4 linked regions of the Homo sapiens genome follow. The protein of the gene in region 2 interacts with the protein of the main gene of each other region in a pairwise test. Each region holds a gene or a part of one and is shown on either strand. Other genes may lie near its edges.

Region 1 (7,693 bases), on a different chromosome or scaffold from region 2:
GCGCCCTTCACACATTCAAGTTCCCAGACACCAGGTGAACGAGCGAGCTCCTTGTCGGGGGCGGGGCCGGCTGTCCTCACCGAATTCGCAGCGCCATCTTCCTCCCGGGACCGGGCCGGCTTCCCTTCTGCCAGCGAGGGAGACTCGCAGGCAAAGGCGGGTGGGGGTGGCGTTCGCTTCCCACGGTGGAAAGAACCGGAGGCAAACACTGTCTGGCTTAGCCCGCAGCCTGGAACACAATGTCAGGAGACCTGGGGCTGGAGAGCTGGAAAAGTCCCGGGCAGCCTCAGGATAACCCGGAATCCCGAAGTGCTGTCTTGGGGAATTATTCCCAAGTGCACAAGGGACAGGCTCGATTTCTTGGAAATCCTGCGATCTGGGGACGCATCCACAGAGGAGCTGAACTGTGCCCTGTAGAGACCAGTTCTCGCCTCCGACCGGTCTGTGTGCGCACGCTCGGGGCGGTGATGGTCCCTTTTGAGAAGAGGGTTGTTTTCGAGTCGGGCCACAGTCACTGGCCATGGACTCGCGGGGAAGGCCATGTCCTTTCTCCCCTCAGCCCCTTCCCCGTTCCCGGTTTACATCTCAAGGGGAAAGCGCACGCGGGGTCTCCCAGCACCGTCACCACCGCTGTGGCTGTCAGCCAGGCGCTCGCAGCGGCGCCCTTTCGGCCCTGGGGCAGTTCCTGAGACTTCCTGCCGCTGGCTTGGGGATGCGGGGGTGCAGCCCGGGCCCGGGCCACCGGCGGCGGACGCGCGTGGCGGGGCGGGGCAGAGGTTGAGAACCGCTGACTGCGAAGTCCGGGTGCGGGGAAGGGAAGGGAGCGAGGTGCGGGGGAGGCAGAGGGGCCGGCAGCCCCTAGGCGGCTACTCCTTGTCGTCCACGAGGTCGGCGAGCTCCTGGAGCACTCGCAGGCGGCCGCTGGCGTCGATACGGCGCTTCTCGCGGATGAGGTCTTCCAGGCTGTGAAACCTGGCGGTGTGGACCTTGTTCTCTCCCAGGTGCACCTTGAGATAGTACTGCTGCTGCGGGGGCTGCGTGCCTGCCGGCACCTCCCCTCCCGCCTTGAACTCCCGCTTGCCAAAGCGGCACCAGGCGGCGAAGCTCTCCGAGTTCGTCCAGCAGATCTCCTCGCTCTTGAGGCCCAGGTGGCCGCAGGCGTTCTGCACCACCAGCTCGGCCACCAGCGGGCGGTAGCGGTACCAGCTATTCACCACCCGGCCCACGTTGGCCGCGCCCGCCTCATACAGGCTGTCCTGGCGGATCTCGCCTTGGTGCAGGTGGATGATCTGCCCGCCGCCCACGTAGACGGCCCAGTGCGGGGCGGGCGCGGGCGGCTCCGGCGCGGGCTGCAGCCACAGCAGCTCCAGCAGGTCGCCGGGTTCGCAGAGCGCTGGCAGCGCGGTGACCGCGTAGACGCTTAGGTCGGCGCCCTGAGGGCCACCGCTCACTTTGGAAAAGATGCATTCCTGGCCCCGAAAGGCGGAAAACTGAGTCTCGTTGAGGACCAGCTGGTGCAGCAGGTGGTGGTGGTGGCGGCTGGGGCTCTCCGGGCAGGGGGTGCAACCCGGGGGGGCCTTCACGCCAAACTTGTCGGGCTGCCCGCGTTCGTCCAGGTCTTCCTCATCATCCGAGAAGAAGTAGGCAACCCCGACCCGCAGTTCGTCCTTTTCAATCCCCGACGGGTCCCCTGTGGGCAACTCGCTGTAGTTGAGGTGGGTGATGCGGTCCAGTTGGTTGCCCATCAATGAGGTGGCGAGGCGAGGGCCAGGAGCGGGGATCTGCGGAGGCACAGAGAGGCAGAGACACCGTCAGAGTCCGGGCTGCCCCTTTCGGTGTCCCTCCCCAAGACGTGCAGTGCCCCTGGGACCTGCCGGCTAGCTTACGTGCCCTCACCGGAGTCACCCTTTCCAGCCGAGTCCTCCGTGCCTCCCCAGGGGTACGAGGGGCGGAGAAGCCGCCACAGGTCAGGCGAGAGCAGACGCCACCACACAGCCTCCGACCCCTTCCGGGAACTCGGTCCAACTCCCAGAAGAAAACACCCAGGCTGGCTGGAGAGCTTGCGGGGTCCCGGTGGGGAGGAGAGTGCTGGCTGTGGCAGTGTGGGAGACGGACACCCAGGAAGGACCGAGGGGTGGGCTGAAAGGGAGAAGGGAGCCTAAGGCCAGTGAGCTGGGAGCAAGCTCCCATTTCTGTCCCCACCCTCTCCAGCCCACCTCCCAGTTTTGCACTAGGTTGCCTTCCTCCCCTTACAGCGGCTCGCACAATGACAATCAGACACATTCTCAGGCATTCACTTGACACCAGCAACATTTTGGACACTTGGGAGTCCAGACACTGGCAGCCTGGTATACTGGTGTATGTCACATACACCCACAATGACAAACCTTCGCGACGACACACTGGCACACTTAGACCCCACACATTCGTACACAATTTCAGCTCCACGCTTGCACGCTCGCCGTTGCACGTACGCCCAAGCACCCGGGCACACCTGCCCTCACAGGCAGGTGCACTCTGCCCCTTACTTCTCTTGCCTTGTCCCCATCAGGGCCAATGGGACTGCGCCAGGGCGAGGCTGCTCTGTCTAAAATAACCTAACAAAGAGGCAGGGGAAGGATGGAGAAAGCCAGTGCAGTGTATGTGTGTGGGTGTGGGTGGGAGCGTGTGTGTGTAGAGAGGTTCACTTTTAGCCCAAAGACCCCTCTCCCTCCTACCCAGCACAGGATCCAAACAATCGGATGAAGAAAAACCGTTTCCAAGGCAAAGAAAGCCGCTTCTCCCTACCCGTGATTTCCCTGCTCCCGAAACCCCAAACTCCTTTAAAGTCTCCTGGTCCCCATGGGTGCTGAGGAAGCGGCGGTGGCGAGTGGGTCCTGGGCTGCGCGTGGGGCTGCGGCTCCGCTCTACCCCGAGCCGAATCGTGCGGTGCGGCGCCCGTGCGCCTCCAGGTCTGCGCTGGCCGGGGCGCCTGCTCCCACTGGACAGTCCCGGCTCGGCTCTGCTTTCCCACCGCCGCGCCGACGACTCTAAGTAGCCGGAGCAGCCGGTCCCAGGGCCCGCCCCAGGACGCGCTCATTGGTTGGGGCGGGTGCTCGAGCTGTGTCAATCTTCGCCGGCGGGGGAGGGGAGCAGAGGCGGGCCTCCTGTGCGCTTTGCTCTGCTCCGCTCCGCCCCGCCCCGTACCCCGCACACCCGACCGCGCGCCGCCCCGGGGAGCGGAGGTGTGCGCACCCGCGGGGGGCGCGGCGCTTTCTGCCAGGTGCCGATGCCCGCTTGCGCCCGCGCCCCCCAGCTCATCCGAGCTGATTGTGACTGAGAACACAGCCCGCCCGCGTTCCGTGTTCCAGGAAGACAGACTCCAGCGGGGAAGCTGAGTCTGGGTATGGAGAAGAAACCCCAGGGCACCCCAGTATGGCCCAGGCACTGCGAGCGGCCCGGGGCAGGCAGCGACATTGCCCGAGGCGGGCGTCTGGGCCCTGCTGGGATCCCCCAGAGCCTTGGTTCCCGATGGCCCCTAGGCTGGTCCTTGGATCGAAGACCCTTTTCGTTCCCCAGACGTCTTTGAAATTGCTCCTGCGACGTTTGGCTCCTCTTCTTTGACTGGAGTGAGGCTGCTGACCCAGAGCTGATGCCCGATTTAAAAGGAGCTTGGTGTCAAATGCCACCCAAAAGCCTGAGCTTTGGCCGGTGCATTCCCTGGCTGTGCCTATGATATTGGCCTCCAATTTTCTGAATATAGGAGGAGTACCTCACAACTCATGTATGTGAGTTCATACATGCAAGCAGAGAGTAGGATGTAAAAGTGTTTTCCAAGCCTCAGAATTGGGATTGCTAAGCAAGTTTTGTTTGGTTTTGTGGGAAAGGAGGCTCCAGCAGTAGTTAATGATTACATTTCTGGATGGAAAGTTAATGAATGAATGTGTTCTGAATATTGGATGCTGAAAAAATGAACTTCATATATACAACATTCCAGACCAATAGTTTCAAAAGTTCCTAACATTAAGCCTCAAAGAGTTCTTAGACATCTGGTTCTGGCCCCAATGCTACTCATCTTTAAGCCTGGGCTCCAGCAGCTTTTCTATGAAGCCTCTTTTCTTTCCCAATGAGGAATTTGATACTTCCTATTTGAACCCCCCACCTCTTCCCTACAAAGCGAATTCCTTGAGAATAGACTTTGCATTCTGCACAACCTTGTATTCTGGGCCTCTTTCCCAATGCTAGTCATGCAGTGTGTTCCATCAGTAATAGTAAAAATGAAAACAGCCTGTATTGACCACTTATACGTGGTCAGACACTTAAGAGTAAATTAAGTAGACAATTTAATCATTATTCCTCTGTAGGGTACTCACTAATATCCGAATTGTAACAAACAGGGAAACAAAAGCTCCAATACTAGTACCAGCAATCCATCCAAGCCTACGGGATACCAGATCCAGTCTTTCACTAAGTTATAGTGTTTATTGAATAAAATCTTGTTTCATAAAATGAGAAAACTGGTGTTTCAGAGAAGTTAGATGATTGGCTCAAGGTTACATGGAGACTGATCCATATTACAACCCCCTTTTTCTTTGCTAGACTTTTCTGCTTGAATATCTTCAAACCGCCAAGCCTCCAGTTTATGTTTGCTTTCTGAAGGTCTCTGTACACCCCCACAGCCTCCAAATGCAGTGATTTATCAAATTAGATGCTAAAATATTGCTGGAAAAAATGGTTTTAAATGACCATCGGTATACAATTGATGTACCTAAATCTTTTTGGAAATTTGGCTATTGTCCATGTGCATGCAAGTTATCAGAAAACAAGTTGCCATTCGTGGAACTGACCACAGGTTGAGATGGCCTTTTTTATACTTGCCATAAGTAATAAACAACTCATTTTGGCCCTGAAGTCAAGAGAATTGAACAAGTAGCTTTAGAGATAAGGAGTGAGTTATTGGTCTTGTTATAAACTGGACTTCAGGGCTGTCTGGGATGAGGGTATCTGAAGAGTTCATTGTTGATGTCTGAGAAGAACTCTTTGAAAGCAACTCAGCGTTTGAATAACTTAAAAAATATCCTCCCTCCATCCCCAAGATCAAGCCTTGTGCACAGACATTTACAACTCATTTGTTGTGTTCTGCCCTACGTGTTCTATTTCATTCTGCTCCAGACTACAGAGTAAGCAGGTCGTTCCTCTTTGTTTAGTATTCCAATACTATAAAGCATAATTAAGATAAAATGTTGTCAGTTATTGGAGATATAGTGCCTAAAGTTTAAAATTTTTGGCCTCTCCGTTTCCTCTCATTCCCCCTGCTAGGCTAAACGGCTAACTGCTTTTGTAATCACATGGGAGAAAAAATACCCTGGAGCCCCCTTGAAACATAAGGCAGGGAACACATTGACTGTGAGGCTTGAAATAAAGGGAGCTAAAAGTAAACTAAGGAAAATACATCTACACTTTGTCTTCTTTTGGCACTTACCAGATAATAAAGTAAGACAATCAAATGAAGGATGCTGATTGTAGAAAATGTTTTATGTTCATCACAAAATATTGTTTTCAAATTGTTTTGACTTTTATTTTTTACTCCATCCTGCCTGCTTTTACAATGAGAAAATACAGTGCTGTCCAAAGTAGAATATAGTTGTCCAAAACACAAACTCTGAAAGCCAACTAATTTAAACTCTTTTTCAACATTTATTGCTGGGTAACCTCGAGTCCGTTATTTAAACTTTGTGGGCATCAGGAAACTTCCTTATCTGTAAAAAAGAGATAATAATAGTGGTTACCTCACTGAATTGTTGTGAGTTCATACATGTAAGCATAGTGTCTGACGCACAGTGAGTTTTCAATCAAGGCTATCTTATTATTATTCTTGGTGGAAGAGAGAGGTCTCATACCCTACTTGTTTAGGACAGCTGTGCAGTTCTCTTTCTCCTTTGCCCCAGGCTAAAGGTAGCAATAGATAGTGTCCAAGGCTTTCCCTGATTGGGGTGTAGGACTGCTTCTGTGTTAAGGTGGTGAGATCCCTGCCTATCCTTCAAATACTCTGAGACCTAAAGCTCTCTATAGATTTCAGCATGTGAGCCCCTGGGCTGATCATGTGGTAGCAGGGAGTGGGGTGGGGGTTCCCTGAAGGATTTTTAATTGTTTTAAATGAACATTTCCGGTGTGAGGAATTTGTGTGGGGAAAAAAGTTACAGGGGAGTGATTAGGAGTCAATCAAATGTATGTGATCTTTTCTGCTGGTGCCATCTGATGTATCCTCTCTCTCTCTTTTTTTTTTTTTGTTTTTGGTTGCTTCTTTGGCACTATTTGAAAAGCTTTACTCCAAATTTTACTGAACAGGTCCTTGGCTCAAACTGTCATCCTTTAAAATTGGCCTTGGAGCTTGGAGTAAGGGTTCAGGAAAATTATATGCCCCACTTTATCCTTTAATGAAATGAACTGTTCCATCTCCTGTCCTTCACTGCCTTAGGCAGTTAACATACTCACCCTGGTCTGAGCTAAAGAATACTCTGTGTCCATCTGGATTAGAGATGGTTATATGGCTTCACCAATCCCATTTCCCTTCCTTCTGGGCACCCAGCTAAATGACAAGTCCCAGCATGCCTGCAGTCATTTGCCCCATGCCCTGTGACTGAGTTCTGGCAAATGGAATGTGGGTGGAAGTAGAATAAGCCACTCCCAGGTGCCGCTCCTGAAAGCTCCTGAAACTGAAACTATTATTAACACAATCTTCCAGAGCTTTCTTTTGCCAATTTGGCCATTTGTAGAGGATTCATGGTAGGACTCCTAGGATCTAAGAGATGGAGGAGCCACTAGATGGAAGAAGGCCGGAGCTCCTGAATGACTGTGTAGAGCTGATAATTTCCCCTCCCAAGAAAACTGCATTGGACTGTGAAGAAATAAATCTTCTTGGGTTAAGCCACTCCAAAATTGTGTGGTTATTTATTATAGCAGTTAGCCTGTACTGACTGATATACTGTCCTTCATTTTAGACCTATCTCAGAACAATAAAAATCTCCCCCACTTCCCCCGTCCCCACACACACCTCCTACCTCCTTCTCTCTTTGTATCTGTTCTCACTGCCAAGGCTAACTTGCCTGAAATCCCTGCAGCATTTCAGCAGGTTCACATCACCTAGAATGTAAAGAAATCACTAATGAACACTTCTCTCCCCTCTAGGTACTACCCCATATCTCCCTACTATTTGTTCTAGAAATTTTCACAGCTTCCATGTGACTAACTTACCCAGCTCTCTGAACATCTTACCTGCTTTCTACTTTTGTAGACCACAACAATGGCGTGGGAAACCCCTCCCAGTAAACTTCTTGCAGCTGGTATCCTGCTTCCCTTAACCCGCATGCATGCATTGACACTCTGGCTATCAATTTCCTCTTCAGTGCCCATTTCCAAGTTTGGCTTCCACATTTCCATGTTCTCTAATTTCCTTCCCATAACTGAGTGTTCATATTAAAGTGTCTTTTGTGGCTTCTTATCAGCGAACCATTAAAGACTCATGAATGCTCCCTGGGTAAAACCTTTAGCACTAATTGGTTTAATATTTTATTTTTTTGTGGATTATACAAAGATATCTTCACCTAGCATTCATTTTTCTCTGTGTTCTCTCCCAATTTTAGGATAGTTCATGCCTTTTGTTTGGGCCCACTTCCCCATATGAGTGATGGTTGAACTTTCCTGGGTAGGCATG
Region 2 (7,743 bases):
TGACAGTTTCCCTACACTGCCTGGAGAGACAGCTGTGCCAGGGGATCGTGGCCTGGTAACCAGGTGTCTCCTGCCTCAACACCCACCACCGGGTTGTGGCCCTGAGGAATGACAGTCTCAGGGAGTCCCCACCCAGACCCTCCACGGTTCTGTGGCCCCTGGGGCCCATGTGCCTGGCTCCTTCCTCCTGGCTCTGCGGTGTTTCCACCTGAGACCCTCCCGGTCTCAGCCTGTGCTGCCAGGGAGGAGCCTCCACAGCCAGCCCTGGGGAGTTTCTCAGCTCCCAGAGGCATCTGGGCTTCCAAGAGAGCCTGAAATAGGCCTGTCTGAGTGTGAGGAGGAAGGTGTCAGAGTTACAACCAGCAGGGAGGGTGGGTGTTCCCTCTTGGTCTCCTCCCTGGCAGGGAATGGAAGTGTGGGGTCTGCCTCAGGCTCTAAAGCAACGCCTCCTCCACCCCCACCAATGTGGCAACTTCTCCAGGTTGGGGGTGTGGAAGTGCAGCTGCCTCCTTCCTGCCCTGCAGGCTCATAAGGGCTGAGGGTGCTGGCCTGGCGCAGTGGGGAGGGCAGAGGTGAGAGTGCTGGCCAGAGGGCTGCAGCTGGGGTCTTGACCTTGAGGATGTGTATGTTGTGTGTGGGAAGACAGGGTGCTGTGTCAAGACTGACGGGCCCAGGATCTGAGAAGGGACCTTCAGGAGCCCTTATCCCCCTTTCTTCCCCTTCCCCCACTGACCAGGCCCTGGACAGAGACAGGAGGAGAGAAAAAGGAAAGCAAGGCCCTGTGGGGCTTGGGCTGGCAGGGAGTGGCTGAGACAAAGCTGGGCCAGGCTGTCCTGGGGCTGGGCTCTAGTCCACAAAGAAGTGGAGTCAGAGTGGTGAGGGGTTACTCTGGGCACTGAGTGCATTGGTAATGACCTCCCCCAGCCCAGGCCCAGGCCCCTCTAAGAGACAGGAGTGGGGAACTGGAAGAGGGGTGTAGAGAGAGAAAGAAATCCTTGCTGAAAACTCGGACTGCCCAGACATGGCCCTGGCCTCGGTGTTTCGTTTCTCCCTTGGCATCTGCCCTACCCTGGTCCCCTTCCTGGGGAGGTTCAATGGTGTTCCATGATGTGGACGGTGAGCACTTCCTCCACGTATCCGCACAGGTACCTGGCAGGGGTTGGGACACAAAACCTCCAAGGTCCTGAGGACCCTGCCTCGCTTCTTCATGGTGACCCATGAGTGTGCCAGACGCATGCAAGGCCGGTGGGCTGCAGGTGCTGACACACGGCTGACGGCACCCTCCGAGGACGCAGTCTGGCACATCTGCGGCTCTGCTACCCACAATGTGCTTGTGTGGGTGCCAGCACCTGTGGGGATTGGTGGTTCCGAGCGTCTGAGGCCCTAGTATCCCAATGTCCCTCTTAGCTTCCTGCCACTCCCGACTGTGTTTCTGGGCTTGGGGGCTGCTGAGATAGCTGCCCCATCCTCAGGAGCGCTCCTCTAACTCCTTAGAAGTGCTTCCTGCTCTTTTTCCTCCAAAATCTGCTTCTGAGTTGGAATCAGGGCATATCATGGTGGAGCTGGGTCGGTCCCAGGCTTGGGAGAGGCCACAGGGAGAAGAAGCTGGAGATGGAGCAGGCCTGGTAGTCAAGGATGCACTAAAGCTGCCCTTCCAGAGCGAGGCTTCACCCCATCTGCACATGACAAGGCTGCCCTGCTCTGTCCTAGATTTGACCGCTTTCCTCTGCCAAGAAGAGGGGCTTGAGGGTGAGCATGGTCTGGGGCTCCTCTGCCTGCACCCCCAGGGACCAGCACGTGTGGAAAGAGAGCATGGATTTGTAGCTAGAGTCAGTGACTAGCTTTCGAGACTTGGACACATCACCTCTATAAGGATGGTGTGTGTGCTCTAAGCCTAGGTGTGTGAAGAACGGGGCGCTCTGTGTTTGTGGGTCTCTTGGGGGCATGTAGTGCCTGAATGACCCCTAAGCCCAAGCCACTGCATTTCCTCCCTAGGTGGGAGGTTTTAGGGTTAGGCCCTGTCTCCTGAAGCTTCTCTCTTCTTCCCCTCACCCTCCAAACTCAGCAGGGATTGTATCCTAGGGGACTGTTTGCTTCTCCACTCACCTGTGCCTGCCCTGGGCGCTCCTGCTGGCCCGTGCCCTCCAGCGGGAAGGGGGCAGCTGGGAACACTGGACCCCCCGGGCTCTCCTCTTTCTCAACCTCTGCTCTTTGCTCTCTGTTCTTCCAAGAGGCTTTGAATCCCGCAAGCCGCTGAGCTGGAGACAGGGTTCTGCTCCTCTTTGTCCCGCTTCTTGGCTGAGCCTCGGTTTTCCCATCTCTAAAATGGGGAGCCCCTGCTATACTACCTTTGAAAGGCCAGAAAAATGTGTGTGTCTGACAGTTTGGCTGGGTGTCTGGGGTGGCTGGCCGAGCAAGGAGTTCTGAGGCCGGGGAGAGGAGGGGGACCGAGGTGCTCTCCTGCATCTGGTTCCTAGATCCTGGTGAACACCGCGCCGGAGCCAGGGAAGGCTCAACCCAGGCTTCGTTCACCCCAAGGCGCCCCACGCCGCCTGCTCCGCCGACCTCGGACCGGCCCCATTCGCGGCTGGGGAGGTGGCGCTGGAGCTCGGACCCGGGCCCAGCCCTCCTCTGCCCGGAGCCGCTGCCGCCCTCCCTGCCCAGGGCCCGGCCGGGCCGGGCGACACCTACCTCACCAGGATGGCCACCCCCACGTCCTCGCAGTTGGCATAGAGCCGGGCCCACATAGCCTGCACCGCCTTCCTCTCCGCCTCGGACAGCTCCTCGCTCCGCTCCCTGCGCTCGATCTCCATCTCGCCTGGCACTTTCTCCATGAGCAGCTCCAAGCCCAGCCCGGCTTTGCTCGGCGGCGGCGGTGGCGGGGCGCGGGGCGCGGGGCGCGGGGCGCCGGGAGCCGGGGCCGGCTGCGTGCGCGGCGGGCGGGCGAGGGGTAGAGCGCGGAGGGAGGGAGCGTGTGTCTGTGCGCGCCGGGTGTGTGTGTGTGTGTGCGTGCGTGTGTGCAGGGTATATGTGCGGGGGGCGGGGGACAGCCAGCGGTGGGGCGGGGATGTGGTCTGCTGGAAAATGTTTAAAAAAACAAATCCGCTCCAAACCCCCAGCCCCGTGTGGGTAAGAGCCAATGCCGGCAAGGTGAAGGCTGCGCGGGGTGGGGGCGACGCGACTGCCGCCCGCCCACCCGCAGGCCACGGCGGAGTTGCACCGCGGGGCGGGGCTCGGGTAGGTGTGGCCGGGGCGCTGGGGGTCCCGGGAGGAATGGGCGGTCACGCGGCGCTGGGCGGCGCGGGCCGCACAGGAGTGCGCTGGGGCGGGCGCGGGCCGGGAGCGCTGGGTTCCGGGTCCCAGTGCTTGCGGCGTCGCGAGTGTGCGCGTGCGGACCCTTCCCGCGGCGGGGAACTGACTCAAAGTCCAACACTCCCGAGCTTTCGCGGCGAGGCCGACCGCCAGCCCGCCCGTGGGGGCGAACAGGAGCCCCTCCGGCGGCCGCCGTGGACCTAGCTGGGCTCCCCTCGCCCGGGCCTCTCCCCGCGCCCCCGAGCCAGCCGCTGGGGGCCGCGGCGCCACTCCCACGGCTCTGGACGCCCAGGCTCTGGGGGGTTAGCACGGGGGTCGTCCCCCTGCCCGCCCACCGCCCCGGCTGTCGGAACTTGAGCGCACCTCCGACCTCGGGCGCCAGAGGCCTGCGCCCCCTCTCCTTCCGCCCAGCACCTCCATGCCCTCGGTGCACGAACGCGGCGGCGGCGGCCAGAAGTCCCCCGTGGCTTATGAATGACACGGACAGGCAAGAACCAGCCGCTGCCCTGAATTCTAGCCCAGCTGGTGGCGGAGGAAGTCCAGAGAGGCACCGGATAGGGCAGACAGGACCTGGCAGACAAAAAGTCTTGAGGAAGGCGCAGGCTGCTGGGGACATCTCAGCCGCCACCAAGGGCCCGATTCCGGGCCTGGGGGAGGCAAATCCTTCCTCCTGGTGGGCCCTATCCAGGGCAGTGTGAGATTGGGCCAGAGGTGGGGGGAGAATCCCATGGTGCCTGCCCTGCAGCGGCTGCTCAGTCCTGGGGACAGCCTGAGGCCAGACAGGGCCTGGCAGTGTTGGGAAGAGATGTCACTCAGGCTCCCGGCGACCCCTGTCCTCGCTCAAGACTTGATGTCCCATTGCCCAAGCATTGCTAAGGGTTGGCTCTGCGCTTTCACTATGGTTCATGTATTTATTCTTAAAATCCGACTTTAAGGTCCGGGGGAGGCGAGGAGAACTCACCCTGGCCAGCCTCAGCTGCAGCCTGGGCCCCTCCTGGGAGCTCAGGGTTCAGGTGCCTGGGGGACCCTGAGGCAGTGCCTCTGACACTGTCTCCCCCTTGTTGAGGGAATGAAAATCTAATGCCTCCTGGGGGTCTTGGAGGGGCTGGAGGGGAGCGGGTGGGTTCAGGTTCTCACACCACTCCCAGACCCATGTCTCAGCGTGGCCATGGCTGGCTCCATGCTCCACACACACACTGAACAGCTTCTCAAAGTTGGTGTGACCAAGTGGCTGCCCAACAGGTCCCCTTGGGATGTGGAAAGAAAATAGGAGAAATCGTGTAACTATTTCTTTTCATCTCATCCTTTGCAAATGTAATATAGTCGTATGGTGTAGGAATGAATCTGTACAGTAGTCTAGCATATAATTTGTAAGTGGCTGCACCTGTCTATTTTGTGAGTGCACACTTGAATTCTGCCTTTTACTGAAGAGGGCGTGTAATCAGAAAAGTTTGGAGAGGATTGTCCAGAGGGTAAAACTGCCAGCCCTTCACTGTTGAGTCTCCCGTCTCTCTGGCTTCATTATCCAATATTCCTCCCCTTTCTTCCTCCTCTCCTGATGCTTCCACGGTGACATCATTGCTTCACCTCCATTCACCTTGCAGTTACTGGCAGATGCTCCATGCTTTCATGTCAGTAGCTTCGGCAGCGTCTTCTGTCTGAGGGCTCATCCTGCCTTGTGCACTGCAAATTCAGAGGCCCTTGCTCCTCTTTAAACGTTGCCCTGATGCCTGCAACTCTGAAAGTGCCCTGTAGGCGCCTTGAATAACTCCTGGGTCACTCTACTGCAGTCATTGTACTTGACAGCACATTTGTTTAGAGTGGCAGCTCCTTGCAAGCAAGGCCCAGTCTCATCAGATCGAGACTCCGAATACGTGCTCAATGCCACAGTGCATGCCTTGACCCTACCGCTGGAGGGGAGAACCTGGGCCCAGTGAGCTTAATCAGTCCTCACAAGGTCGGGGCCGCTGACCCACTAATCAGCTTGAGCCTCCTAATCCATCCCCAGCAGGAACCGCAGGACAGACGGCAGTGGCTCCTGAGAGCTGGCTGGGGCCATTTTGGCCCCTCGCCTGTGGCCTTCTGCAGACTTGGCCTGGGAGGGGATGGGGCAGCTGCGCCATGTGCACCACCCTTTTCCTGCTCAGCACCCTGGCCATGCTCTGGCGCCGCCGATTTGCCAACCGAGTCCAACCGTGAGAAACTGACCGGGCTATGGCTGGCGGTTGGTCGGGGGGGGGGGGCATGGGGCTGGGCTGCCACCAAGCTGAAGGTGGGCAGGGGCTGCGTGAACCTTCAGCGGGGCTGGGAGGGCATTTTGAGGAACCCTTGAGAGAGCACAGTCTCAGAGCAGGGGGACTTAGAGCTTCAAAGGCTCTAGTTGCAGCCTCTACTCCCATAGCCCAATGCGGCCTGGACCTGTGGAGGGACAGTGAGGGGCTGGGCACAGCCATAGCTCTTCCTCCCTACTCTTGCCTCCCACAGAGAGCCCAGCGACGTGGATGGGGCAGCTAGGGGCAGCAGCTTGGATGCGGACCCTCAGTCCTCAGGCAGGTAAGGCAGGAGTCTGGGCTGGGGGAGGGAGGGTGCTGCCAAGGAAGCTGTGGCTGTGCATGCCTGGGGGTGCACGTGTGTGCCTGTGCGCGCCTGTGCGTGCACCGTATCCTGGCCCTTGCCCTAAGCACCCTGCTCCCTGTCCGCCTGCTGGGCAGGCTGGATGTCTGTTTTCTGCGGTTGGGAATGGGAACCCTCAGCTCGCTCCTCTGGACCAAAGCCGCTGTGCCTCTCATCTCCAGCACGGGGCGGTCCCCCGGGGCACCTTCTGTCAGAAGGCACAGGGGAGTGGAAGGAGGGATGAGGCAGGAGTAGCTCTGTGTGGCTTTGCTCGCCTTTCCTTGCCCTTCCCCCTCCTCCTCCTCTGCCCCCGCCCTGCCTCAGCTAGGCTGCCTGAGCCTCCAGCAGGATTCGCTGTCCAGTCCCCAATAGAAGGCGCGGGAGGAGCATGACATCATCAGCATAGAGTGCCATTGGCTGGGCAGACCCTGCGGGCAGGACGCTGTCTCCAGTGGCCAGAAAGTTAACTCTTCCCTAGGCTGGAGCCATGTGGTCTTTAGGGGGTGAAGTTGGGGGAACTTCCAGACTTTTCCTTCCCTGGGTGACCAGTGTCGTTCGATGATAGGGGCGCCTATCCCAACCAAACACTGGAAAAAATCAGCAAATCTTTATGAAGTTCCCATGCATGAGGGGTTCCTTCTGTGCCTATGGACTCACCTAGCGTGGGAGACCTGTCTGAAGAGTGACTTTTTTGCTCCCAGTGAAACAAAGAGTAAAAAAGATCCGATGACATCTTTGGGTCAGGGCGCACTGGCAGGAGGGTGTCTCCACACAGGGAAGACTCAGGTGGCGGGTACTGTGACCATCCATGTCTCTTTCTGAGTGGGGACCTGCCAGCAATGTGTCCCTTAGATATGCGGAAACTGGCAACCGAGAGAACTTCCGTCTTTCTGTCTCCTGTCGTCTGAGTCCTGGGATTCTGAGTCCTGAGATTCTGATGATCAGAAGGCCCAATGGGAAGCCCTGGGCCTGTACAGGAAGCGGAGGCATTTCTGCGACACCTCAACTCGATAGGCCAGCTGGCATCATCATAATAGTGCCTAATTGATATCACTAGTTAAATCAGCTACAATGACCACCCCTGGGCCTCCCCCGATAGGAGGCCCTCAAATGCTGGGTGGTCCACGCTATTGAGCCCGGGTCTAGAGTTGGGCAGGGAGAATTTAAATTCTGGCTTCCCTCTTACTAATGGAAAGACTATGGGGGAAATTTATGCAATCAGTTTATTTATATGTAAACTAGGATTAATAACAGTGGTTGTGAGGTTTTGGTGAGGGTGCAGAGTGATTGCTCCATAAATGCTAGCAGCTGTCTTGTTTCATGCTCGGGACCTGTGCTTTAGTTTTCTCCAGAGGTTTCCTACCTATTAAGTCACTCGGGAGGCTCAGTAACCCCAGAGGATTGGCAGGACATGTGTTTTTAATCTTTGGTTAATGGTTGTGGAAACTGAGGGACAGGGAGATTTAGGTGGCTTGCTCCAGATCATCTATCTCATTTGTGGCTAATGCGGGATGCTCAGGCCCGATTCCAGGCAGGGTCTCTTCTACATGAAATGGGCCTGGACCTCCTGGCAGGAGAGAAAAGGCCAAATCTGAGGACCATCTGGCCAGGCCTGGCCTGGCGTGACTTAGCCAGAAGGAAGCAGTTGCCTATTAACTCCTTGGGACCCAGTTAACTGGAAAAATTGGTCTGACATCGAGGAACCACCTGCCGATGGTGGCTGCCGTGGAAGGCTGGCAGTGGGGGTGACATTTCTACTCTCCAGTCACACTGTCCTAAATGCCAACTGATTCCTTAGGTGGTCCTGCCCCTCAATAT
Region 3 (5,704 bases), on a different chromosome or scaffold from region 2:
CCTTGGTGCCTCCTGTTTGGAGTAGGGGTTTCCAAGGGAAATGAGGACCTTGGCTGCCTATGTCTGTCCCCATGCCGAACAGGAGGCCCAGAGCCAAGACTGAGAACCTAATGGGTGAAAAGACAAGAGGCTTTAGTTAAGACAAGAGGAGGCTAAGATTGAGAGCTTCAAGATGTTCCACAGATCCTGGGAAGTGTTCTTCTTCTTGGTAGTGACTCTAATGGTAGTTTCTTTGTCCCAGTTGTTTCATTCCTAAGAATGTATTGAGGCAACTCTGAATTAGAGAAAATGTACTGCAGGTGTATGACTCTCTTTTCTATCGTGTGTAGAAGAGTGAGAGACACCTCAATGTTGAGAGGTCAGGTGGGTATTCAGACCAGGGGCCCGAGGAGACCCTGGGAGGGCAGTGTGCTTCTGTGACCCTCCTACTACCTCTGCCCTCTGAAGACTCCAGCCCATGGTTCTGCCCTTTCTCAGTCCCCAGGTAGGATGGGAAACAAAGTGTTAACAGCAGAGAAAGCAAGTTTTTGGGGTTCACTCAAGACCTAGGCTACAGCCAGGTCAAGTGCCTGCTTTATTCAACAGGAAGCGCTCAAGTGGGACTCACCCCCCACCTTTCACAGTGTAAAGTGAATAGGGAGCAAGGCAGGAAGCTAGAAAAATAATGCATGGATCTAGACAATTCAGAAAAACCCTTCTAAGTCAGCTTAAGGCCAAGACTGGTCAGTGTGAGAGAACAAAAGAGGTGACAGAAAAGCCTTGGGCAGCCTGAGCCATGATGGGCCTAGCGGAAGTAGTTGGGACATTCGTGAGCAACCAAATGCCAGGCTTGATTAAAGGCATCCACGACAGCCGGCTCCAGGGGCCCTTCCTCTGTTGCTGCCAAGTTCTGCTCCAGCTGCTCCAGGCTGGACATGCCCAGGATGACCGCGTCCCCGTGGGCACCCTGCAAGGGAGACGGCCAGACTTCAACCCTCTTCTGCTGCACAGCGACTCCACTCACAGCCGTCCCAGCCACCTCCCTGCTGAGATCTGGGGTCTCTGTTTATATTTATATCTTGTATGTCCAGAAAGGACTTAAGGTGCCTTGGATAGCTGTACCCACGTGACTTGAAACCCGCATCCTTTCCCCTACTGCCGCACGACGCTTCCACACAGAACTACATTCACAGCCCAGTTCTGCCCCCAGCAGCTGTGTAAAAATGGCTAAGTTGGCTGGGCACAGAGGCTCATGCCTGCAATCCCAGCACTTTGGGAGGTCAAGGTGGGAAGAACACTTGAGCCAAAGTGTTCAAGACCAGCCTGGGCAACAGAGAGAGACTCTGTCTCTACAAAAAACAACAAAACAAAATTAGCCAGGGGTGATGGTGCATGCCTTGTCCCAGCTACTAGGGAGGCTGAGGCAGAAGGATCACTTGAGCCCAGGAGGTTGAGGTTGCAGTGAGCTATGAGTGTGCTGCTGTTCTACCGCCTGGGTAACAGAGTGAGACTCTGTCTCAAAAAAATTAAAAAGCAGGCTACGTTATTAAGCTTGTTTTGACATTCGATCTTTTTTTTTTTCAAACAAAAATATTTTTCCTTGTGTTTTGTACACAAAAGGGGGTGGGAGGTAGTGCGGTGTGGTGGTGGCAGCGGAAAAATATGGAACACTTCACAAATTTGCGTGTCATCCTTGCGCAGGGGCCATACTAATCTTCTCTGTATCATTCCAATTTTAGTATATGTGCTGTCGATGCAGGCATGACATTCAATCTTTTTCTCTGTTTTCAGCATTGGAATGAGAAAACTTATGTAAAACACAGCTCCCACGTACTGAACATCTACCGGATATATGCCAGACACTATGCAACATGGAAGGCTGAAGCTGGAGATAAGTTTGTTGCTGTTATTTTCATTGTTGTTTGCTTGTTTTTTTTAGACAGGGTCTTGCTTTGTCACCCAGGCTAAGGTGCAGTGGTGTAATCTCAGCTCACTGCAGCCTTGACCTCCCAGGCTCAAGCCATCTTCCCATCCCAGCCTCCAGAGTAGCTGGGAACGTAGGAGCAAGCCATCACAACCTGGCTAATGTTTTTGATTTGTTGTAGAGATAGGGTCCCATTTTCTTGCCCAGGCTAGACTCAAATGCTTGAGATCAAGCAATCCTCCCATCTCGGCCTCCCAAAGTGCTGGATTACAGGTGTGGGTCACTGCCACTGATCAGGAAATAAGTTTTAACCAGGAAGACATGAGGCATCAAGAGAGAGAAACCAAAAGGGTGAGATGGGTGGGTCTTAGTTAAACCTGTGTTAAAATGTCTGCCACTTTAATAGCTGGGTGAACCTCGGTTTCCTCATCAATAACACTGGGATAATCATACTTCAGAAAGCCTAAGGAATAAGAAAATCCCTGTAATGAAAATCCCTCACTACAAAGCCTCCACTCAGATACCATCAAAGACCAGTGGGAAGAGTGCTTATGAGAATTGGAAGAAAGAAAAATTTCAGAGGAATTCAGAAATCAAATGCTTTGGGCTTCACCTAAAGGTGACGCTGGTCCCCCTGGAAGGGAAGAAGCTGAGCACCCAGGGTCGCTGGTTACCTGCAGCTGTGAGTGGTGGTACATCCACCGGAGGGCAGCCGAGGTCACACTGGGGGCGCTGGCGCCATATGCGGCCTGCAGGGCCTTCTCCACCAACGCAATGGCCTCGAAGTGGTGCTCCTTCCAGAAGCTGTGCAGAGGGGATGTTAGCACAGGGGTCAGTACCATGGGGGTCACACTGGGAGCCGCAACCAAATAGCCATCCAGGACCACTGCCCCACCCCACACCCTGCAGCCCTGAGGGGCGGGTGTCCTCTCTAGTCATAGGTCTCCCACTTTGCTGGGCATCAGAACCACCCAGGATGCTGGGCCCCTCAGCAGAGACCTCAATGGATCTTTACTCCTGAGGACTCAGTAGCCTAGGGACTTCCCTAGGGACACGAAGGCTGCTCAGATGGGGCAGGATTCCCTCCTGGGCTCTCTTTTTGCTTTTTGATACATGGTCTTACTCTGTTGCCTACACTGGAGTGCAGTGGCATCATTATGGCTCACTGCAGCCTCAACCTCTTAGACTCAAGTAATCCTCCTGCCTCAGCCTTCCAAGTAGCTGGGCTACAGACAGGTGTGCACCACCACACCTGACCACTTTTTTGCATTTTTTTTTTGTAGAGACCATGTTGCCCAGGCTGGTCTTGAACTCATGAGCTCAAGTAACCCTCCCACTTCGGTGTCCCAAAGTGCTGGGATTACAGGTGTGAGCCACCATGCCTGGCCCATCCTGGGCTCGCTTTTTGCTTCCCAGCAGGTGATTGCTCAGGAACGAGCTATGACTTCAAGACCCCAACATCCAGGGATCCTCATTTCCCCCCCAGAGGTCTCAAGACAACAAGAAAACCCACAGAGGGCTTGGGAATTCCTGAAGCAATGCAGGGGAGGAGATGCAAACAGCAAAGGAAGGTCTTACCTCAGGAACAGCCCAGGACTTCATTCCACATAGATTTGACCCCACCCCAGCCATCCTCACCAAGCCCACCCCCGGCTCACCGATTCCTGTAGGTCTCAGCCCAGCTATTCCCAAAGAAGCGGCCCACAGGCTGTTTCCCGTCCTTGTCCTCATACTTGTACTTGCCAGTCAGCAGGCCCCCTGCGGGAAGGCAGCAATCAGCCCCTGGCCCCAGAGTGCCCCAGAAGCTGCCACATCCCTCAGGGCTCTGGTCTAGGGGAGGGGCAGGGACCCAGGAGGGGCTGAAGAACACAGCCCAGCCTCTTGTCAAACCCTCCCTGCTTCATAAATTCTGGGCTGGGCATCTGTGGGTCAGGAATAGGCTGAGACAGGGTCAGGAATGCTCCACGTACCAGCCAGAGGGTTGTAGGCATAGAACCTCAGTCCAAAGTGCCTGAGGCAGGGGAAGAGCTCCGTTTCCACCTGCCGGGTGGTGGCGTTGTACATGCCCTGCAGGGAGAGGGACCCCGGGGACAGGGTGGACATGTCAAGAGAAGGAACTGTTGCCTTCCACTTTCAAACCTCTAAAGCAACACCGGCCCAGGACTTCAGCAATATTCTAACATCACTACTGTTAGTAGGGGATGGAGGGAAGGTGTTGGGCCCAAGGACAGAAAATTGAAGTGGAATGGTATCTTTCCACAAATATCTGCTGTATGAACTCCATGCTGGACACTGGTTACAACCACAAGTAGGTATCACAAAATCCCTGCTTCCAGGAGATGTTTACTCAAGTTTAAAAAAATAGACAAGGAAGGCAGTTAATTACAATAAAGTTAGGTTCTACAATCAAACAAGGAGCTGGAAAGTACTCGCTGAATGTATGAAGATGAGATTTGGAGACTGGAGACTCCTATGGGGCTGTCTAGAAAGGCTTCCAGAGGAGGAGACCTCTATGTAAGGCCTGAGTGCTTCTCCCAGGGAGGAGGGCAGGGGAAATGTGTTCCAGGCTGAAGTATGAAAGGAGGTGGGGAAGGAAGGGTCCAAGGTGCACAGATAGGCAGGAAGGAAGCAGATGCCCAGTGGCCAGGCTGAGGAGCTTGAATGGCATCCTGAGGGTACATGGGAGCCATCTGCAGGCTTTCAGCAGGGGAGTGGCTGCTATGCAGACGGCACAGGGGGCAGTCAGGGGGGCAAAGAGAGCCCAGGATTAGCAGGAGTCCTGGAGACCTTGGCCTCTGCAGCCCCGGCCCTCACCTGGTACACAGTGGGCAGGATCCAGCCATTGCTCTTGCAGAGGGTACAGATCTCGGCCACTTCCCAGCTAGCATAGTTGGAGAGGCCAAGCTCCACGAACTTGCCCTGCATGGGTGAGGCTCCAGTCAGAACGCAGTGTAGCCCAGACCAGGAAGGGGAGGCCAGGGTGGGGCCCCAGGGAATGGGGCTATTCCCTGCCCCACCCTGGGACTGCCCTGGTGCCTCTGCTCTCATGAGTAGGATCAGGATAAAGAAAGGAGCAGGAGCCCACCTTTGGAGCTCGGAGGGCCCCCTCACCTCCTGGTGCAGCCGCTGGCAGGCATGCAGCGTCTCTTCCACCGGGGTGCCGTGGTCAGGTGCGTGTAGGTAGAAGAGGTCCACTTGGGGACACTGCAGCCTCTTCAATGACGTCTCCAGCTGGGACCGGACACTGTCAGGCTTTAGTGATTTTCCATCCCAAGGGTTGGCCTTGGTGGCAATTTTCACTTGGAGAGAGAATGGAATGGTTAAGTGACCTATTAGAGCCATTTGCTAACCATGTAACCCTGGCTAAATTACTAATATTCTCTTGGCCTCAATTGTATGATCTGTAAAATGGGGTGATAATAATCAAACTGTCCTCATTGGGAGGTCCTGGGGATTAAATAATGTCATATATGTGAGTTCTCAATGTTCACCTATTAGAATAACTATCATTAGTCACCAACCTGCTGGCTGTGCCAGGCCTTGCACTAGAGACTGAGTATGCAGAGATGAACTGAACACAATGGATCTCTGCCCTCCTGGAGCCCTAGAGGATGATGGTACAATATGGTAAGCACAGGAGGGAAAGGCACACGATGCCAAGGAGCCCAGATGAGATGCATGAAGCCAACTTGGAGACTCCAGGGAAGGCTTTCTCTAGGGGATCACTCCCAGAGTCCCAGCCAACAAGGAAGAGCAGGAAGTACACTCCAGAGCATGGGAACCCATGCAAAGTCAAAGAGG
Region 4 (7,027 bases), on a different chromosome or scaffold from region 2:
GCAGGACTCCGGAGCAGCGCGCTCTCCTGCAGCTAAGTCCCACAGTGCAGGGCCCAGAGGCTCTCCCCTCAAATGCACCCCAGGGAGGCCTGGGAAGCATCTGGACACACGTGATGCATCTTCCTTGAGCATCAGTTTTAATTAAAGGACCAAGGGGTAAAAGTTAAATAATTTGGAAAGAAATGGAAAACGTCTATTTTCTCTCCCCATGCTAATTTCACATAGATTTGAAGGGTAGTCACCGGCAGGCTCCGAATGGCTCCATCTTACACCAGACACCAGCTCCCATGTGGGAGGCACACCTCAGTGCCCAGGGAGGTGGCTCAGCACAGTGTGTGTGGGAGGAAGGTGGGGACACGGGGAACACTGTAGCTGCAGCACCGCTGGCTTCCAAGCCTGGCTCTCTAATCACTAGCCATGGGACCTTAACCTTCCTTGTCTGTTTCCTCATCTGTGAACGGGGCAGTAACAGTCCGTGCCTCCTGATGTGAGCAAGGAGTCAGGCAGCCAAGTGTGCAGTGAGGGTTTCATGGCCATTTGGTGACCACCATCGCAGTGGGGAAGGACAGCCAATAGCTCCTTTTGCAGATGAGGAGGCTGAGTGCCCCAGAAGGAGAGTGACCTGCCTAAAAACCAGGTCTGCTGACTCCTTCTCCATCTCTTTCTCACCCTCATGCTGCCTGTGCCTCAGTTTCCCTATCAGTGAAATGAGGGTAAAATCAGGGAATGGGATGGGTTTTTTTTAATGTGGTGAAACATACTGTCAGGCACCTCCAGGACCTGAGTTCCTTGCTCTCGTCTCTTTAACCGAAGCCGCCTTTAACTCCATCGTTTACAGTGTGCCCATGAATAGCTCAGCCTAGAACTGGCTTGTTAGGCAGATGGCATGATGTCCCAGGCATGTTTAAGTCAAGTAAGTTTCAATGACTCGGCCGGGTGTGGTGGCTCATGCCTGTAATCCCAGCACTCCAAGCACTTTGGAAGGCCAAGGCAGACAAATCGTCTGAGGTCAGGAGTTTGAGACCAGCCTGCCTAACATGGTGAAACCCCACTTCTACTAAAAATACAAAAATTAGCTGGGTGTGGTGGTGGGCGCCTGTAATCCTAGCTACTCTGGATGCTGAGGCACGAGAAGCACTTGAACCAAGGAGGCAGAGGTTGCAGTGAGCTGAGATCGTGCCATTGCACTCCAGCCTGGGCGACAAGAGCGAAAACTGCGTCACACACACACACACACACACACACACACACACACAAAGTTTCAATGACCCAATGATGTTATCCAAGTAAATTGGCCCACCCCGTCAGGCACTCCATGGACTTTTCCACCCGTACCTCACAAGCGAAGTATCCCTAGCCAGTAGGTGCCATTCTCTTCCCCATCCACCTCCCATCCACCTTCCAGCTCAATGGCCACCTCCTCCAGGAAGCCCTTCCTAAGCTCCCACAAACCCTTGGATTCTCTCTACACAGAAGCCAGACTCTGGGCCCCTGAGGGCAGGGACCAGGCAGCTGGCTGTCCACAAGAATCAGCTGGGCTCAGGCCCACATCCCATGTCCCTCTTCGCCCTACCCCCAACTCTGGCGTTGGTTTGGGGAATGGTTAGTCAGTGAATCGAATGAGGAGTCCACAAACATGATCCTAAAGCTGCCAACAGAGAGGCCAACCAAAGGACATCGACTTCTGAAACGGCTGAGTCTTAAGCATTGAGTTCTCAGCTGGACAAATGCCAACACTGCATTTCACAGGCAAGCGAGGGACGGCACAGAGCTCTCTGGAATCTACACAGCCTCTGTCACAAAACCCTGAAGTCGGTGGCCAAGGTGCTGTCCCCATCCCGCCAAACAATCCCACCCTCCTTCCCGGGTGGACTCTGCGGTTCCTTCTCCGGGGCCTTCACACTCCTCCCAAGGCAGCGGAGAAATTTCCAAGTCAGGGTGTGGCAGAGCCCGAGGGATTCTCAGGAGCCCCCCCACCCCCCACAGGATTGAGGGAAAGTGAAAGGCAGGGCCTCCCTGCCTTCCTGACGACCTCCGAGGCTGCTAGCGGATTGGTTTAAACTTTGGGCTTTTAGGCCGGGCGCGGTGTCTCACGACTGTAATCCCAGCACTTTGGGAGGCCCAGGAAGACGGATCACCTGAGGTCAGGTGGTCGAGACCAGCCTGGACAACATGGTGAAACCCTGTCTGTACTAAAAATACAAAAAATTAGCTGGCATGGTGTCAGTCCCTGTAATCCCAGCTACTCGGGAGGCTGAGGCACAAGAATCGCTTGAACCCAGGAGGCGGAGGTTGCAGTGAGCAGAGATGCAACACTGCAATCCAGCCTGGGGACAGAGCAAGACTCGGTGTCAAAAAAAAAAAAAAAAGTTTCTGCTTTTAACTCCCGGGGGGTTCCACCGCTGTGTGTTGAACCGGCCAGCCCCCCACCCCCTGAGTTTGAATCAGCGCAGCACCTGCCCCGGCCTCCGTTTTCTCATCTATGAAACGGGAATGACCTCACCCACCTTGTAGGTTTGGGGTGTGTGGGGGCGGGGGAGGTGCCTCCCCCAGGCGCTGACCCGACCTAACCTGAGACCCCAGGACGGAAGCAAAAAAGGAACATTTGAGCTGACACCGTCCGGCCAGACCAGACCAAAACGCAGGCTGAGAGAGGCGAGGGCGGGGAAGGCGGTGCGGGGTGAGAAGGAACAGGACAGGGGAAAAAGCAGAGGAGGGGAGTGTGGGGGGGCGGGAAAGAAAGGAGGTGAAGGGAGAGGGAGTCTAGAACCCACAGGGGACCCGGAGGCTGCGCGCCGGCCGGAGGGTCTCCCCCCGGCCGCACGTGGCGTCGCGCCCGCCTGGGCGTCCCTACCCGGCCAGCGGCCCCTTGTCCCCGTACACGCCCTGGGAGCCCCCGCGGCGCACCCCCCCACCCCGAGCACGGCCTCCTCCCTGCGCGCTCCCTCCCGCCGCCGCCCGCCTTACCTGGCCACGGACCCCGCCGGCCCCCACCTGCGTGCCGGGTCTGCCGCTCACCTGGCCCCTCCCCGGACGTGGCTCCCGGGCAGGCCCCGCCCCCCCGCCCCTCCGCCCAGCCCCGCCCCTCCGCCCCTGCTACCCGGCGGGAGCCATTTCCCAGGTGCACGAGCTGACCCTGGGTCCACCTGTGTGTCGGGGGGACAGGGCGGGGTCGGGCGGAGCACACGCGCTCAGGAGCCCCTCGCACATCGCACCCTGGGCACCCCGATTCCCGGCTGGGCCGCGTCCCCGTCCCGCACGGCACCCATGCCTGGGGCGGGCACTTTCTTGCTGATCCATTTCCCCATTTCTTATTTTATTTATTCATTATTTTACTTTATGTATGTATGTATTTATTTATTTATTTTGAGACGGAGTCTCGCGCTGTCGCCCAGGCTGGAGTGCAGTGGCGCGATCTCGGCTTACTGCAGCTTCAACCTCCCGAGTTCAAGCGATCCTCCCACCTCAGCCTTCATAGTAGATGGGATTACAGACGTGCGCCGCCAAGCCCGGCTAAGTTTTGTATTTTTAGTGGAGACCGGGTTTCACCATGTTGGCCAGGCTGGTCTCGAACTCCCAACCTCAAACGATCCTCCCGCCTCCACCTCCCAAAGTGTTGAAATTACAGGCGTGAGCCACTGCGCCGGGCCCCATTTTTAATTTTACTTTTTTGAGACAGGGGTCTCGCTCTGTTCAGGCTGGAGTGCAGTGTCTTGAACTTGGTTCACTGCAGCCTCTACCTCCTGGATTCAGGCGATCCTCCGGCCTCAGCTTCCCGAGTAGCTGGGACCGCAGGTGTGCACCACCATACCCAGCTAATTTTTGTAGTTTTTGTAGAGACAGGAGTCTTGCCATGTTGTCCAGGCTGGTCTGGAACTCCTGGGCTCAAGTGATCCACCCTCCTCAGCCTCTCAAAGTGTTGGGATTACGTGCCTGAGCTACTGCACCTGGCCCCTTTCGTTAGGGGTGTACAAAGCGTGGCAGAACTGGGAGAATTGGAGGGACTTGAGAGGAAATTTTCCCTAGGGTTTGTTGAAGGATTTGTATCTGAGGAAAGCAGCTTAGATACAACAAAATATATCAGGCCCAGAGAAACAGTAGTATAGGACTTCAGTCCAGGTCCCCCTGCAGTGCTTGGGGGGCCATAGTTTTTTGTTTGTTTGTTTGTTTTTTGTTTTTGTTTTTAGAGTCTTGCTTTGTTACCCAGGCTGAGAGTGCAATGGCGCGATCTCAGCTCACTGCAACCTCCACCTCCTGGGTTCAGGCAATTCTCCTGCCTCAGCCTCCCAAGTAGCTGGGATTACAGGGGCCTGCCACCATGTCCAGCTAATTTTTTGTATTTTTGGTAGAGACGGGGTTTCACCATGTTTGCCAGGCTAGTCTTGAACTCCTGACCTCAAGTGATCCACTCACCTCGGCCTCCCAAAGTGCTGGGATTACAGGCATGAGCTACCGCACCCGGCCGTGGGGGCCATGGTTTAAAGGCATTTTGTTCCTGACTCACTGCCTCACCCATTATCTGCATGTTCCTGCAACTTGTGATACAGAGAAAAATGTGTAGCCAATCAACAACTTATTATTTTTATTTTTATTTTAGATTCAAGGGGTACATGTGCAGGTTTGTTAGGGGATATATTGGGTGACACTGAGGTTTGGTTTTCTGTTGATCTCCTTACCCAGGTAGTGAGCACAGTACCCAATAGGAAGTTTTTCAGCCCTTGCCCTACTCCCCCCACCCTTCTGGAGTCCCCAATGTCTTTTGTTCCCATCTTTATATCTGTGGGTACCCAAGGTTTAGCTCCCCCTTAGAAGTGAGACATGTCATATTTGGTTTTCTGTTTCTGCATGAATTCACTTAGGATAATGGCTTCCAGCTGCATCTATGTTGCTGCAAAGGACAAGATTTCATTCTTTTTCATGACTGCATAGTATTCCATGTTGGAAATGTACCACATTTTCTTTATCCAATCCACTATTGATGGGCACCTCAGTTGACCCCATATCTAACCTATAGTGAATAGTGCTGCTATGCACATATGAGTGCAGATGGCTTTTTGGTAGAAAGATTTCTTTTCTTTTGGGTGTGTACCCACTAACGGGATTGCTGGGTTGAAGGGTAGTTCTATTTTAAGTTCTTTGAGAAATCTCCAAGCTGCTTTCCACAGTGGCTGAACTAATTTACATTCCCACCAACAGTGTATAAGTATTCCCCATTCTTTGCAGCCTTGCCAATATCTCCTATTTTTTGACTTTTTAATAACAGCCATTCTGTCCAAAATCAAGATGCTGGCAGAAAAAATAATAATAATAATAGCCATTGACTGATGTGAAATGGTTTCTCCTCGTGGTTTTGATTTGCATTTCTCTGATGATTAGTGATGTTGGGCATTTTTTCATGTTTGTTGGCTGCTTGTATGCGTGTATGTCTTCTTTTGAGAAGTGTCTGTTCATGTCTTTTGTTCTTTGTTTTTTTTGAGACAGAGTCTTGCCCTGTCACCTAGGCTGGAGTGCAGTGGCGCCATCTCGGCTCACTGCAACCTCCTCCCCTGGGTTCAAGCAATTCTCCTGCCTCAGCCTCCCAAGTGGCTGTGATTACAGACACACGGTACCACACTCAGCTAATTTTTGTACTTGTAGTAGAGATGGGGTTTACCATGTTGGCCAGGCTGGTCTCAAACTTCTGACCTCAAGGGATCTGCCTGCCTGGGCCTCCCAAAGCGCTAGGATTACAGGCATGAGCCACCGTGCCTGGCCCCTTGCCCACTTTTTAATAGGATTATTTTATTCTTGTTGATTCATTTAAGTTCCTTATTGTTTCTGTATATTAGTCCTTTGTCAGCTGCATAGTTTGCAAATATTTTCTCTCATTCTATAGATTGTCTGTTTACTCTGTTGATAGTTTCTTTTTGCTATGCAGAAGCTCTTTAGAACAATTTACTTTTTTTTTGTTTGTTTGTTTTTGTTTTTTTTTGAGACAGAGTTTCGCTCTTGTTGCCCAGGCTGGAGTGCAATGGCTCAATCTTGGCTCACTGCAACCTCTGCCTGCCGGGTTCAAGCAATTATCCTGCCTCAGGCTCTCAAGTAGCTGGGATTACAGGCACCCGCCACCATGCTCGGCTAATTTTGTATTTTTAGTAGAGACAGGGTTTCACCATGTTGTCCAGGCTGGTCTTGAACTCCTGACCTCAGGTGATCCACCCACCTTGGCCTCCCAAAGTGCTGGGATTACAGGCATGAGTCACTGCACCTAGCCAATTTATGTTATTTTAATGTAAATTCTTGGTAAACAATTTAGGAACTGCCTCTTCTTTTCCTTCAAAAACCTACTTGTAACTGTTGCTAATCACAGTGAATATTCAGGGCAACTTGAATGTATACTCCCAGGTTGCAGTCCTCAAACTTGACCCAAATATATTCTTTTTTTTTTTTTTTTTTTTTGAGACAGAGTTTCGCTCTTGTTGCCCAGGCTGGAGTGCAATGGCGTGATCTCGGCTCACTGCAACCTCCGCCTCCTGGGTCCAAGTGATTCTCCTGTCTCAGCCTCCCAAGTAGCTGGGATTACAGGCATGCGCCATCACGCCCAGCTAATTTTGTATTTTTGGTAGAGACGGGGTTTCTCCATGTTGGTCAGGCCGGTCTCGAACTCCAGACCTCAGGTGATCTGCCTGCCTCGGCCTCCCAAAGTGCTGGGATTACAGGTCTGAGCCACCGCGCCCAGCCCCCAAATATACTCTTACTTGTATTGATTTTGCCTCGGTTTTTTCCTTTGGATCAACGACTCCCTGCCACAATGATTATTTCAGGTTCTGGAAGGAACTGGGCCTGTGCCAGTCACCCCAGGCCTTCCTCCGGCCACAGTGAGCAGTTCAGGTCAGAGTAACTGGACTTTGCCTGGATGGCTGGGGCTTATTGTGCCCTCTCTTTCTCTCTCTCCAAGCCCTGATGACAAAGCCTGGCACATGGGGAGTGCTGGTGTTGCGGATAAAAAGAGATCTTTTCCTCAACCATGGCTGGGTTCATGGCTGAG

The links.
Region 1: the proteins of CYGB (region 2) and LRATD1 interact in binary tests that used the Homo sapiens proteins (3 or more experiments, as listed by UniProt).
Region 3: the proteins of CYGB (region 2) and AKR7A2 interact in binary tests that used the Homo sapiens proteins (3 or more experiments, as listed by UniProt).
Region 4: the proteins of CYGB (region 2) and ARHGAP8 interact in binary tests that used the Homo sapiens proteins (3 or more experiments, as listed by UniProt).

What each region holds. Positions count from the first base shown.
Region 1 is NC_000002.12:14,628,032-14,635,724, reverse strand, and holds the start of LRATD1 (protein LRATD1), read right to left. Parts: upstream 3,009-7,693; 5' UTR 2,788-3,008; intron 2,140-2,787; exon of another isoform or gene 1,897-2,139; intron 1,782-1,896; 5' UTR 1,746-1,781; coding exon 867-1,745; 3' UTR 1-866. UniProt on the Homo sapiens protein: May play a role in cell morphology and motility.
Region 2 is NC_000017.11:76,534,709-76,542,451, forward strand, and holds the start of CYGB (cytoglobin), read right to left. Parts: upstream 3,002-7,743; 5' UTR 2,835-3,001; coding exon 2,692-2,834; intron 1-2,691. Other genes in the region: photoreceptor disk component PRCD, read left to right, coding at 5,434-5,507, 5,797-5,865. UniProt on the Homo sapiens protein: Probable multifunctional globin with a hexacoordinated heme iron required for the catalysis of various reactions depending on redox condition of the cell as well as oxygen availability.
Region 3 is NC_000001.11:19,303,441-19,309,144, forward strand, and holds the end of AKR7A2 (aflatoxin B1 aldehyde reductase member 2), read right to left. Parts: intron 5,203-5,704; coding exon 5,015-5,202; intron 4,823-5,014; coding exon 4,718-4,822; intron 3,971-4,717; coding exon 3,874-3,970; intron 3,662-3,873; coding exon 3,562-3,661; intron 2,708-3,561; coding exon 2,578-2,707; intron 1,909-2,577; exon of another isoform or gene 1,771-1,908; intron 947-1,770; coding exon 785-946; 3' UTR 525-784; downstream 1-524. UniProt on the Homo sapiens protein: Catalyzes the NADPH-dependent reduction of succinic semialdehyde to gamma-hydroxybutyrate. May have an important role in producing the neuromodulator gamma-hydroxybutyrate (GHB). Has broad substrate specificity.
Region 4 is NC_000022.11:44,748,568-44,755,594, reverse strand, and holds the start of ARHGAP8 (rho GTPase-activating protein 8), read right to left. Parts: upstream 3,021-7,027; 5' UTR 2,968-3,020; intron 1-2,967.